2 linked regions of the Homo sapiens genome follow. The protein of the gene in region 2 interacts with the protein of the main gene of each other region in a biochemical or structural test. Each region holds a gene or a part of one and is shown on either strand. Other genes may lie near its edges. The genes, in order: RGL2 and RAP1B.

What was found.
Region 1: the proteins of RAP1B (region 2) and RGL2 form a complex in vitro, tested with the Homo sapiens proteins (one study listed by BioGRID).

Annotation. Positions count from the first base shown.
Region 1 is NC_000006.12:33,295,706-33,303,432, forward strand, and holds the start of RGL2 (ral guanine nucleotide dissociation stimulator-like 2), read right to left. Parts: upstream 3,238-7,727; 5' UTR 3,165-3,237; intron 2,947-3,164; 5' UTR 2,906-2,946; coding exon 2,750-2,905; intron 2,293-2,749; exon of another isoform or gene 2,188-2,292; coding exon of another isoform or gene 2,093-2,187; intron 1,639-2,092; coding exon of another isoform or gene 1,509-1,638; intron 1,411-1,508; coding exon 1,327-1,410; intron 1,072-1,326; coding exon 893-1,071; intron 760-892; coding exon 709-759; intron 621-708; coding exon 323-620; intron 55-322; coding exon 1-54. UniProt on the Homo sapiens protein: Probable guanine nucleotide exchange factor. Putative effector of Ras and/or Rap. Associates with the GTP-bound form of Rap 1A and H-Ras in vitro.
Region 2 is NC_000012.12:68,669,623-68,672,420, forward strand, and holds the end of RAP1B (ras-related protein Rap-1b isoform 1 precursor), read left to right. Parts: 3' UTR 1-2,279; downstream 2,280-2,798. UniProt on the Homo sapiens protein: GTP-binding protein that possesses intrinsic GTPase activity. Contributes to the polarizing activity of KRIT1 and CDH5 in the establishment and maintenance of correct endothelial cell polarity and vascular lumen.

The sequences.
Region 1 (7,727 bases), on a different chromosome or scaffold from region 2:
GTGACCCCACAGGCCTCCCAGGCACTGAGAGGGGATCAAATTGAGAAAAAGTTCCTGCAGGGTAGAGGTCAGAGGTTAAAGTTCATAGTCAAGTGAGGTCAGCCTTCCAATATCAGGGATCTGAGGATCTCAGGTGGCCAAGGAACCAGAGGGGCACAGGGTTTGAAGGGTAACGACCAAAGGGAAAAGGGGAGAATCAAAATGGTAGGTGGAGGAGGCTAGGAGCTGGATCAGGAAGGGGTGGAAGCAAGGAAAGGATCTGGAGTCAAGGAGAGGTTAGTAAGGGGTCAGGGGGCATAGGGGCCAGAGGTCAGGGTCTCACCGCATCTAGCAGGGTCAGCTGTTCGGCCAAGTGGTCAGCGAGGAACACCAGGACATCCGTGGGGTCAGCAGGGGGATCGCCGGGGAGGGCCAGGGGCTTAGGAAGGTCGGGGGCCTGGGGGTCCACCCGGGACCGGAGATTGCGGATGAGGTCAGCGCTGCCCCCCCCAACACCCTTCCCTGCTGCATACCCTGTCTGAAGTAAGAAGCTCTCAAGCCGGTCAAGCTGACCCTTGGCCTCAGAGCCAAAATCCTCAGGGTGAGAGGCCAGCCAGGTTGACAGTACAGAGATGGCTACCCTGGGAGAAGGGAATCAGCCAAGGGTGAGAGGTAAAGCTGCAGCCTGGGCAGAGGGGACTGTGAGATTAAGAACCAGGGGTCACTCACTCTGTTGTCCTCTCTAGTTCGTCGGTAGGATGAGATTCAAGGGCTTCCAGCCTGAGGGGGAGAAGAGGATCTATCTGTCCATTTTTCCCAAACCCTCAGTGGCTTTGACTATTTTGGTGGGATGTTGCGGCTTTAGGAAATCCGGGCAGATACTCCACTACCCTGCGTCCCTTATGACTCTGACCTGTCAGCCATAAGCCCTAGCAAGGCAGGCGTGGAGGTGAAGGCCCGGTGGGTAGCCAGGAAGGCTGACATGAAGCTCACATCAGTCCCTGATGTCCGGGTATCCAGTAGGTGTCTGACCAGGGCCTCCAGAGTGCCAGCTCGGAGCCGTCGGGAGGAACGTGGGGGAGGCATAGGGACCTGGAGAACACAGAGAGATGATCGCTAACCCTTTCTCCCACTCTGCACCTAGATTTCTGAGGACAATCCCAGACCCAGGAGATGTTCCAGACTCATTTTTCTGATATTCAGAGAGGGCAAGAGTCTTGGCCTATGTCACACAGCAGAGTCCAGGACTCCAGAACTCCAACCTAGCACTCTGGCCAGAAAGTCAGCCAGAGGAAGGAAAACTGGGAATGAAGAGTCAGAGGTGAGAAGCTAAAGTCATGATCTCACCAAGGGATCAAGAGGTCGATATTGGCGGCTTGTGACGGTAAACACGGCACCATCCTCCTCCTCATCCCAGACGGACACAGGGGCCTGGAGGAGCAAGGAAGGGGAAGTCAGACAGTTCCACACCACCCCCCATTGCCCTCAGCCTTCACCCCAGGCCCTGCTCCTCCCTCTGTACCCCTCACCTGTGGTGGCAGGGCATAGTACCAGCGAGTGCGAGGAAGGGTTGGGGGAGCTGGTGACCCCAGGTCTCCCCCACTGGGGCCCAGACAGCCCCACCCCAGCCGCCTCAGGGCCCCGGTGGAGTCGAAGGGGCTGCAGTGGAGGCGTGGATGGAGTACAGGAATTCTGATCCTGGAGACCCCCAAAGCCCCTTCTCCCCAGAGCTGAACCCACACACGACAGAGAAGCAGGGTACAAAGGGCAGGAGAGGGAAGCGAGAGGCAGCAAGCCAGAGGCAGCGACTAGGGGTAGCTGAAACCTCAGTCCAGGCACTGCCGCATGCCCCGCCCCTCCCGGCCAAGGACTATACCAGCCCAGAGAATTAGTCTTTTTCAGGACCCCTTTCACCCTGGTCCCTCGGGTAGCGCCTCCACTATCTCAGCCCTAAGGGACCCCCGAAGGTAGCAGCTCCAATCCCAGTACAGGAAGGAAAAGGGGAAGTGGGATGATAGGGGGTTGGGGGCGGTAGACTCAGAGAGTCACGTGGCCCCAGCCCCTCCCCCGACCGATCCCGAAAAACCAGCCCTGCCAGTCAACCTGCCCTCACCTAGGATCTGGACCTAGGAGTTTAGGGCCTCGGGGCCCCAAATCCAAATTCTGGCCCCTCCTGAGGCCCGAAATCCTGCTCCTGGCCACCACCATTAATCCCTAATGAAAACAGATGACCACTCTCTACCCACCCTAGGATCTTTCCTCCAGGTCCCAGAACCGTGGCTTCCCGGCCTCTACCCAGGACCGGGGCGGGGCGGGGGGGCGGGGGGAAGGGGGAGAGAGGGAAGGAGGGGTCACGAAATCTGAGGGTTCCCTCCCCAATCCCAGAGTCAGAGGAGCTGGTTACTGTGGAAACAAACCCCTCCCCGCCAAACAAAAACAAGGAGGGAGACAGGGACCAAGACACGACTGCTCAGAGAGGTAGGCACACTCAGGCAGGCAGAGGTGGAGGGCCAAAGACCCGCAGGGACAGGACAGCCAGCCAGAAGTTCCAGGCAGGAACAGGGCAGGTTCCTGCGGGCAGGTCCTGAGTCACACTGACAGAGAACCACGGAGACGCCAGGACTCCCCGCAGCAGAGAAACGGGCCGACACCCAGGGAGGCGCGAGAATAACTGAGGCAAGGAGGAGGAGATGTAGGGACCCAGAGACAAGAGAAAAGTGGAGACTTCAGAAATACATACGCCCCCTACCTCCCACCACCCGCGTCTCACCTCTTCTTCTTCCTCCTCCTCTTCCTCCTGCCCCCCGCCCACGACCAGGCCACCTGGGCCCCCACCCTCTTCGGGGTCCCGGCTTCGGAAGCTGCTCAGTACGACTCCCCCGGGGGGGCTCGTGTCCAAAAGCAGCCGCAGGGGCCGCGGGAGCATGGCCGAGTGAAGGAATCAGCGGGGTCGGGCCATGGGGGCGCCTGGGGAGAGACGGGGTGGGGTGGGGGTGGAGAGTCAGGCAGGCGCGGGGGAACCGGGCAGGGAAGGGACGTGGGTGGGTGTCAAGAAGACCGGAAGGGAGTTCTGCAGGAAGGTTGGGGGAGGGGGCAACAGAAGGGTGGAATAGGGGGGCCCTTGGTGCTGTTGGGGAAGGAGGAGGTCACGAGTACGGGGACGCGCAGGGTGCTCAGGCTCTGACCTGCTCGGGAGGGGTGGGGGCAGCGTGGGTCCTGAGCCGCTGTTGCCGTCGGTCTCCGGCCCCGGACCGAGTCCCCTCCCCGGCTTTTCCGTACCCCCTTGAACCCCCCCGCCGGGCTCCTGGGCCCTCCCGCCCTTTCCGCTCCCCCCCGCGTCCGCCCGCTCCGAGAGCAGGAGCCAAAAGGGGAAGGAAGTGAGGACAGGAGCCAGGGCCGCGGACTAGGGGAGCGCTGGACGCTCAGGGACCAGGACCCAGGCGCCCGAGTCCCCAGCTCCACTGTCCTCCGCCTCTACACTCGGGGATTCTGGAGACCACGTCGACCCGCAATGAACTGGAATAAAGATTCCAGTCTCCAGCCCCTGGGGGAAGGCAGGAGCAGAATTTGACATTCCCTTCCCCAACAATAACACGGCTAAAACTCCCGCGGGAAGCGTTTCAGGCGGAGAGAGAGCCGGTCACTCCATCCCCACGGGATTACCCTCCCTACCACAACCCACGAATGTAGCTGACCGAAATCCCGGCCGGGTTTTCCGAAGGGCCCTCGATTCCCGCCCCCTCGGCAGGGGGCGGGGCAGGAAGCAGCCACATCCGGTTCCAGATTCGGCTCTCAGAGGCTTCCGGCGCCGAGACCGAGATCCCCGTCGGCTCGGTGTATCCTCGCTGGTGGAGTACCCTCTGCTTGAGCGCATCTCATGCGCCAGTAGTGGCGCCCGCCCCGAACGGTGTCGACGGGGCGTTCTCTGAGCGGTTCAGGGTCACTGGAAGGGACCAGAGGTGATTGGAATATTCATTGAGCTTGGAAAGGGGTTGGAATGAGAGAACCGTTTGGAAGCACTGGAATACAGCTTTATTCCTACACGATTAGACCCGTTACCCCGTGGGTCTGGCCGACCGTCCTGACTCGGAGATCCCTGAGCTGCGCCGCCGCTTCCTTCGTCAACATCCAGCAGCTACTTGATGAGCGCCCTCCAGTGGGCCTTAGGTCCCTATGCCGGCGCGGGGTTACAGCAGTGGACAGACAGGCCAGTCCCTGTCCTCGAGGAGCCCATGATCCGCGGGGAGACAGGCATTTAACGACGACTCACACGATCACTTAAATACAACTGTGGTGAACCGCACAAGAGGGACGCGCGGCGGTCTGCGGGGAATGACGAGGCCGACCTCGTCTGCGACCCAGGGAGGGCAAGGGTGGACCAGGCAAAGGGAACAGAGGACTGGGACCTGGAGGTGGGCGGGAGGCGTTTGGTTCATTGGAGGAAAGGAATAGCCCTGTGTGTGATGAGCATTGAGAGGAGGTCTGGCGAGCACCATCTAGGGCTGAAGAACTAGGCAGTGGCTCCAGCGCGGGGCGGTGGGGGGGACAAGTGAGCCAGGGCAAGAAGAATGGATTTGGCCCTAGAGTACGGGTTCTCCAAATGTAACCTCGGCCCTACAGATCTCTGAGACTATGTCAGGGGGTTTGTGAGATTTTATAACAAAATTAAGATGTTAGTACAATATCGTGTTTCGCCGCCGGGCGCGGTGGCTCACGCCTGTAATCCCAGCACTTTGGGAGGCCGAGGCGGGCAGATCACAAGGTCAGGAGATCGAGACCATCCTGGCTAACACGGTGAAACCCCGTCTCTACTAAAAACACAAAAAGTTAGCCGGGCGTGGTGGCGGGCCCCTGTAGTCCCAGCTACTCGGGAAGCTGAGGCAGGAGAATGGCGTGAACCCGGGAGGCGGAGCGTGCCGTGAGCCGAGATCGTGCCACTGCACTCCAGCCTGGGCAACAGAGCGAGACTCTGTCTCAGAAAAAAAGAAAGATTATTTGCAGCCGGGCGCGGTGGCTCACGCGGGTAATCCCAATACTTTGGGAGGCCGAGGCGGGCGGATCACCAGGTTAGGAGATCGAGACCATCCTGGCTAACACGGTGAAACCCCGTCTCTACTAAAAAATACAAAATATTAGCCAGGCATGGTGGAGGACGCCTGTAGTCCGAGCTACTTGGGAGGCTGAGGCAGGAGAATGGCGTGAACCCGAGAGGCGGAGCTTGCAGTGAGCCGAGATCGCGCCACTGCACTCCAGCCTGGGCGACAGAGCGAGACTCCGTCTCAAAAAAAAAAAAAAAAAAGTTTTTTGCCTTCTTCATTCTATAAGTGTACAGTGGAGTTTTTCAGAAGCTACATGATATGTATTGACACCATGGTTCCCACGATGAATAGAATGTGTGCCTATGTATTCTCGTGTTTTAAATTTTTCTCACTTTTAAGTTCTAGTACCATAAATATTGATAGCTATAACCCACATACCCAAAAGCTTTTTGGGGTCCTTGATGATTTTTAAGAGGTCCTGAGAGAAAAAAATTTTGAGAACCACTGTCCTAGAGCTCCAAGAAGGTGAATGCCATAAGATGTGTGTTTTTTAAAAAAGCATTTCTCGGGCCTGGTGTGGTGGCTCACGCCTGTAATCCCAGCACTTTGGGAGGCTGAGGTGGGCAGATCACCTGAGGTCAGGAATTCAAGACCAGCCTGGCCAACATGGTGAAACCCCGTCTCTACTAAAAATACAAAAATTCACTGGGTGTGGTGGCATGTGCCTGTAATCCCAGCTACTCCGGAGGCTGAAGCCACAGAATTGCTTGAACCCAGGAGGCGGAGGTTGCAGTAAGCCAAGATCATGCCACTGCACTGCAGCCTGGGCGGAAGAGTGAGACTCCGTCTCAAAAAAAAAAAAAAAAGAAAAATTATCCCTTATATAAGTGAAAGAAAAAAAAAAAAGCATTCCAGCCACTCAGTGGAGAGAGATTGGAGGGATTAGGAGCAGATGATAGGGTATTATTTTAGGGAGCTACTACAGAAGCTTGGGCCAGAGATGATGGTGGCTTCCACAGGATGGCAGTGAGTGCCCTCACTCTGCTTTCTGGAAGAGAGGAAGGTGGTGAGGAATTCAGGATATTAAAAGGCAGTTGAGGTGTACATGGTCAGTTTAGAGACATATAAACTATCATGGGCACAGATGATGGGAGAAGGATGAGGCTAATATTTTCTGCCCTCCAGACACTGCTGAGTGCTGTATCTCCTGCATCTTCTTAAGGAGATACACTGTCTTCCTTAATCCTCCTAAAAGTCCTCTCAGGCTCCGCTGTCCAATATGACAGCCACCACCCACATTAGGCTATTGAGCATTTGATATGTGGCTAGTCCGAATTGAGATGTGCTGACTATTTAAAATAAACACCTGTGTTTGAATACTTAAGGTGAGAAAAGGGCTGCAATTTATTTTCTTTTCTTTCTTTTTTTTTTTTTTTTTTTGAGACAGGGTCTCACTTTGTCACCCAGGCTGGAGTACAGTGGGACAACCTTAGCTCATTGCAGCCTCACCCTCCCAGATTCAAGCGATCCTTCTGCCACAGCTCCCCAAGTAGCTGGGACTATAGCTGTGTGCCACCATGCCCAGCTAATTTGTTTTGTTTTGTTTTGTTTTGTTTTTTGAGACAGAGCCTCACTCTGTTGCCCAGGCTGGAGTGCAGTGGTGCGATCTCGGCTCACTGCAACCTCCACCTCCCAGGTTCAAGCAATTCTCCTGCCTCAGCCTCCTGAGTAGCTGAGATTACAGGTGTGCACCACCATGCCCGGCTAATTTTTCTGTATTTTTAGTAGAGACGGGGTTTCACCATGTTGGCCAGGCTGGTCTTGAACTCCTGACCTCAGGTGATCCGCCCTCCTCAGCCTCCCAAAGTGCTAGGATTACAGGCGTGAACCAACGCACCTGGCCAAGACTGTAATTTCTTTTTCTTTTTTTTTTGTTGTTGAGACGAAGTTTTCCTTTTGTCACCCAGGCTGGAGTGCAATGGTGTGATCTCAGCTCACTGCAACCTCTGCCTCCCAGGTTCAAGCGATTCTCCTGCCCCAGTCTCCCGAGTAGCTGGGATTACAGGTGCCGTCACATCTGGCTAATTTTTTGTATTTTTAGTAGAGATGGGGTTTCATCATGTTGGCTAAGCTGGTCTTGAACTCCTGACCTCAGGTGATCCTCCCGCCTCGGCCTCCCAAAGTGCAGGGATTACAGGCATGAGCCATCGCACCCGGCCTGTAATTTCTTATATTGTTTACATGTTGCAATAATATTTTGGATGTACAGGTTGAGCATCGCCGATCCAAAACTCTAAAATCTGAAATGTTCCAAAACCTGAAATTTTTTTAGTGCCAACATGATGCCACAAGTGGAAAATCCCACAGCTGCCCTCATGTGATGGGTCACATATATTATTAAAAATATTGTGGTCGGGTGCAGCGGTTCACACCTGTAATCCCAACGCTTTGGGAGGCCAAGGCAGCGGGCGGATCACCTGAGGTCGGGAGTTCGAGACCAGCCTGACCAACATGGTGAAACCCCGTCTCTACTAAAAATACAAAAATTAGCCAGGCGTGGTGGTGGGTGCCTGTAATCCCAACTACTCGGGAGGCTAAGGCAGGAGAATCGCTTGAACCTGGGAGGTGGAGGTTGCAGTGAGCCGAGATCGCACCATTGCACCCCAGCCTGGGCGACAGAGACTCTGTCTCAAAAAAAAAGAGAAGGAA
Region 2 (2,798 bases):
AAACCCCGTCTCTACTAAAAATACAAAAATTAGCCAGGCATGGTGGCAGGTGCCTGTAATCCCAGCTACTCTGGAGGCTGAGGCAGGAGAATCGCTTGAACCCAGGAGGCAGAGGGTGCAGTAGCTGAGATTGTACCACTGCACTCCAGCCTGGGTGACAGAGCAAATCTCTATCTCAAGAAAAAGAAAAAAGAAAAGAAATTAAGCAAAATGATCTTAAAGTTCAAGTGAAAGAGTAGAGTAGAACTGAGTCCAGAACTAGATTCCAGTATATGACGTTTATACGTGACAAAAATATATTTCTTTTTCTTTCTTTTTTTTTTTTTTTTTTTTGAGACAGTTTCCCTCTTGTTGCCCAGACTGGAGTATAATGGCACGATCTTGGTTCACCACAACCTCCGCCTCCCAGGTTCAAGTGATTCTCCTGCCTCAGCCTCCCGAGTAGCTGGGATTACAGGCATGTGCCACCACGCCTGGGCTAATTTTGTATTTTAGTAGAGATGGGGTTTCTCCATGTTGGTCAGGCTAGTTGCGAACTCCCAACCTCAGGTCATCTGCCCGCCTCAGCCTCCCAAAGTACTGGGATTACAGGTGTGAGCCACTGTGCCCGGCCGACAAAAATATATTTCAATAGAAAATAGTATCAGTAAAATGCTAGCACAACTAACTATCTGTCTAAAGACAATAAAAGTTCAACCCCTATATCATGCAAAAAGCACTTTCCAGATATATTAAAATGTTTTCAAGCTATAAAGTAAAACAGTAGAAGTCTTAGAAGAAAATCTAAGAGACTAGAAATCTAGAGATAGGGTAGACCTTCTTAGCTAATTTTTAAAAATGAAGCTATATTTAAGATATATATTTCAAGTAAATAATAAGTGTGTGTGTGTGTACACACAGATGCTTCTCAGCTTACAATGGGGTTATGTCCCAATAAGCCCATCAGAAGTCAAAAATGTAAGTCGAAAATGCATTTAATACCCTGATAAATCCATCACAAAGCTGAAAAATTATAAGTAAAACTGTAAGTCACAGACTGTATATATAAATTTAAAATTTGGCAAAATATATTGCAAAGTCAAATTTGGGAAAGTATAGCACAGATAAAAGATTAAACTATTCACGGCCAGGCACGGTGGATCATGCCTGTAATCCCAACACTTTGGGAGGCCGAGGCGGGTGGATCACCTGAGGTCAGGAGTTTGAGACTAGCCTGGCCAACGTGGAGAAACCCCATCTCTACTAAAAATACAAAATTAGCTGGGTGTGGTGGTGCATGCCTGTAATCCTAGCTACTCAGGAGGCTGAGGCAGGAGAATTGCTTGAACCTAGGAGGCGAAAGTTGCAGTGAGCCAAGATGGTGCCATTGCACTCCAGCCTGGGCAACAAGAGTGATACTCCGTTTAAAAAAAAAAAAAAAAAAAAAGGTAAACTATTCAAAAGATAAATGGTTGAAAGATATATAACTAGGCAGTTTAGATAAGAACAAATCCAAATGGCCCATCAACATAAAAAGATGCTCTAACTGTAGCCAGAGAAATACGAATCAAAGTACCAACGAGCCCAACACATGGACGAAAACTTCAGAGAACACTACAGTCCCAGAAGAGAGGTAAAGGGCAAGAAATGAATCATTTATTGCTGATGGAAATGTGCATTGTAGAGCTGATATCTGTTCAAATTAAATATGCATATTTGACCTCAATTCTACTACTGATATCTACACCAAGGAAATGAAAGGAAATGCACAAGATTATTTATTGCCACACTCTAGAAGGAAAAACAGAGTGCATGCCCATCAATAGAATAGTTGAATAAATTATGATTCATGCATAATATAGAACATTATGCATTCATTTAAAAATGAGTTTGATGTTTAAAGGTTGACTTAGAAGGATTCCCGTGCAAAGTGAACAAAACAGAATACCGAGAAGGATGTATGTGAGGGATGCATGTGGGCACCTGGGAAAGGAGATGAAGAAAGCAACTGAAGGATATTTACCAAGTTGTTAATATGCATTACCTGACATGGTGATATAGGAGTAGGGGTGAGGAAGTGAAGGATCTGAGTAGGTGGAAAAAGAAAAGCAAAAGTACAACAGCGGGAGAAAAAACAGGATGACTCGTCTAGAAGAGACATTGTCAGTAACAAGTAAATAACATTTTCTGGAATATAAAAAAAAAAGCTATATGAATGTCATCATTATATGTAAAATATGAATGTAAAATACATGGGAGGATAATATGCATTAATAAAAATTATGGTGCTGGCAACAGTATCATGGATGACTGTATTATTATTTCCTTTTCCTTAACATTGTTATGCTATCTTTGAGTAAAATTAATTTTAGAAATTTAAAAATAATTGTCATTATACTTAAACCTTATATTTAAACAAGAAAATAATTCAAAAAACCAAAGCAGTTTAACTTTCTTTCATTACCTGAAATTCAGCCTTTTTACACAGCTAGAGAACTTCAGTTGATCTTGTGAAGGACAAAGAAGCAGAAAGACTTCTCTAGGATGTTGGGTTTCCTAAAAGTTAAACTCAATCATTTAAAGTTGCAAATAGGTAGGCAGGATGGATTCTGAAGCACAGATTTCCCAAATGCCCTTTTTGCAGCAGATTCAGCTTCTAAACAAGTTTCAAGGGCAATGTTCATGATAGACGCAACTTTTTCTTAACATTATATTGCATTGTCAATATGTATTCCATCATTTTATGCTTTTCAATGCACTTCCATTTATAAAAGCCGCATAGTTTGCTCTTATATGCCAATATGTTTGTAGCTCAAAAT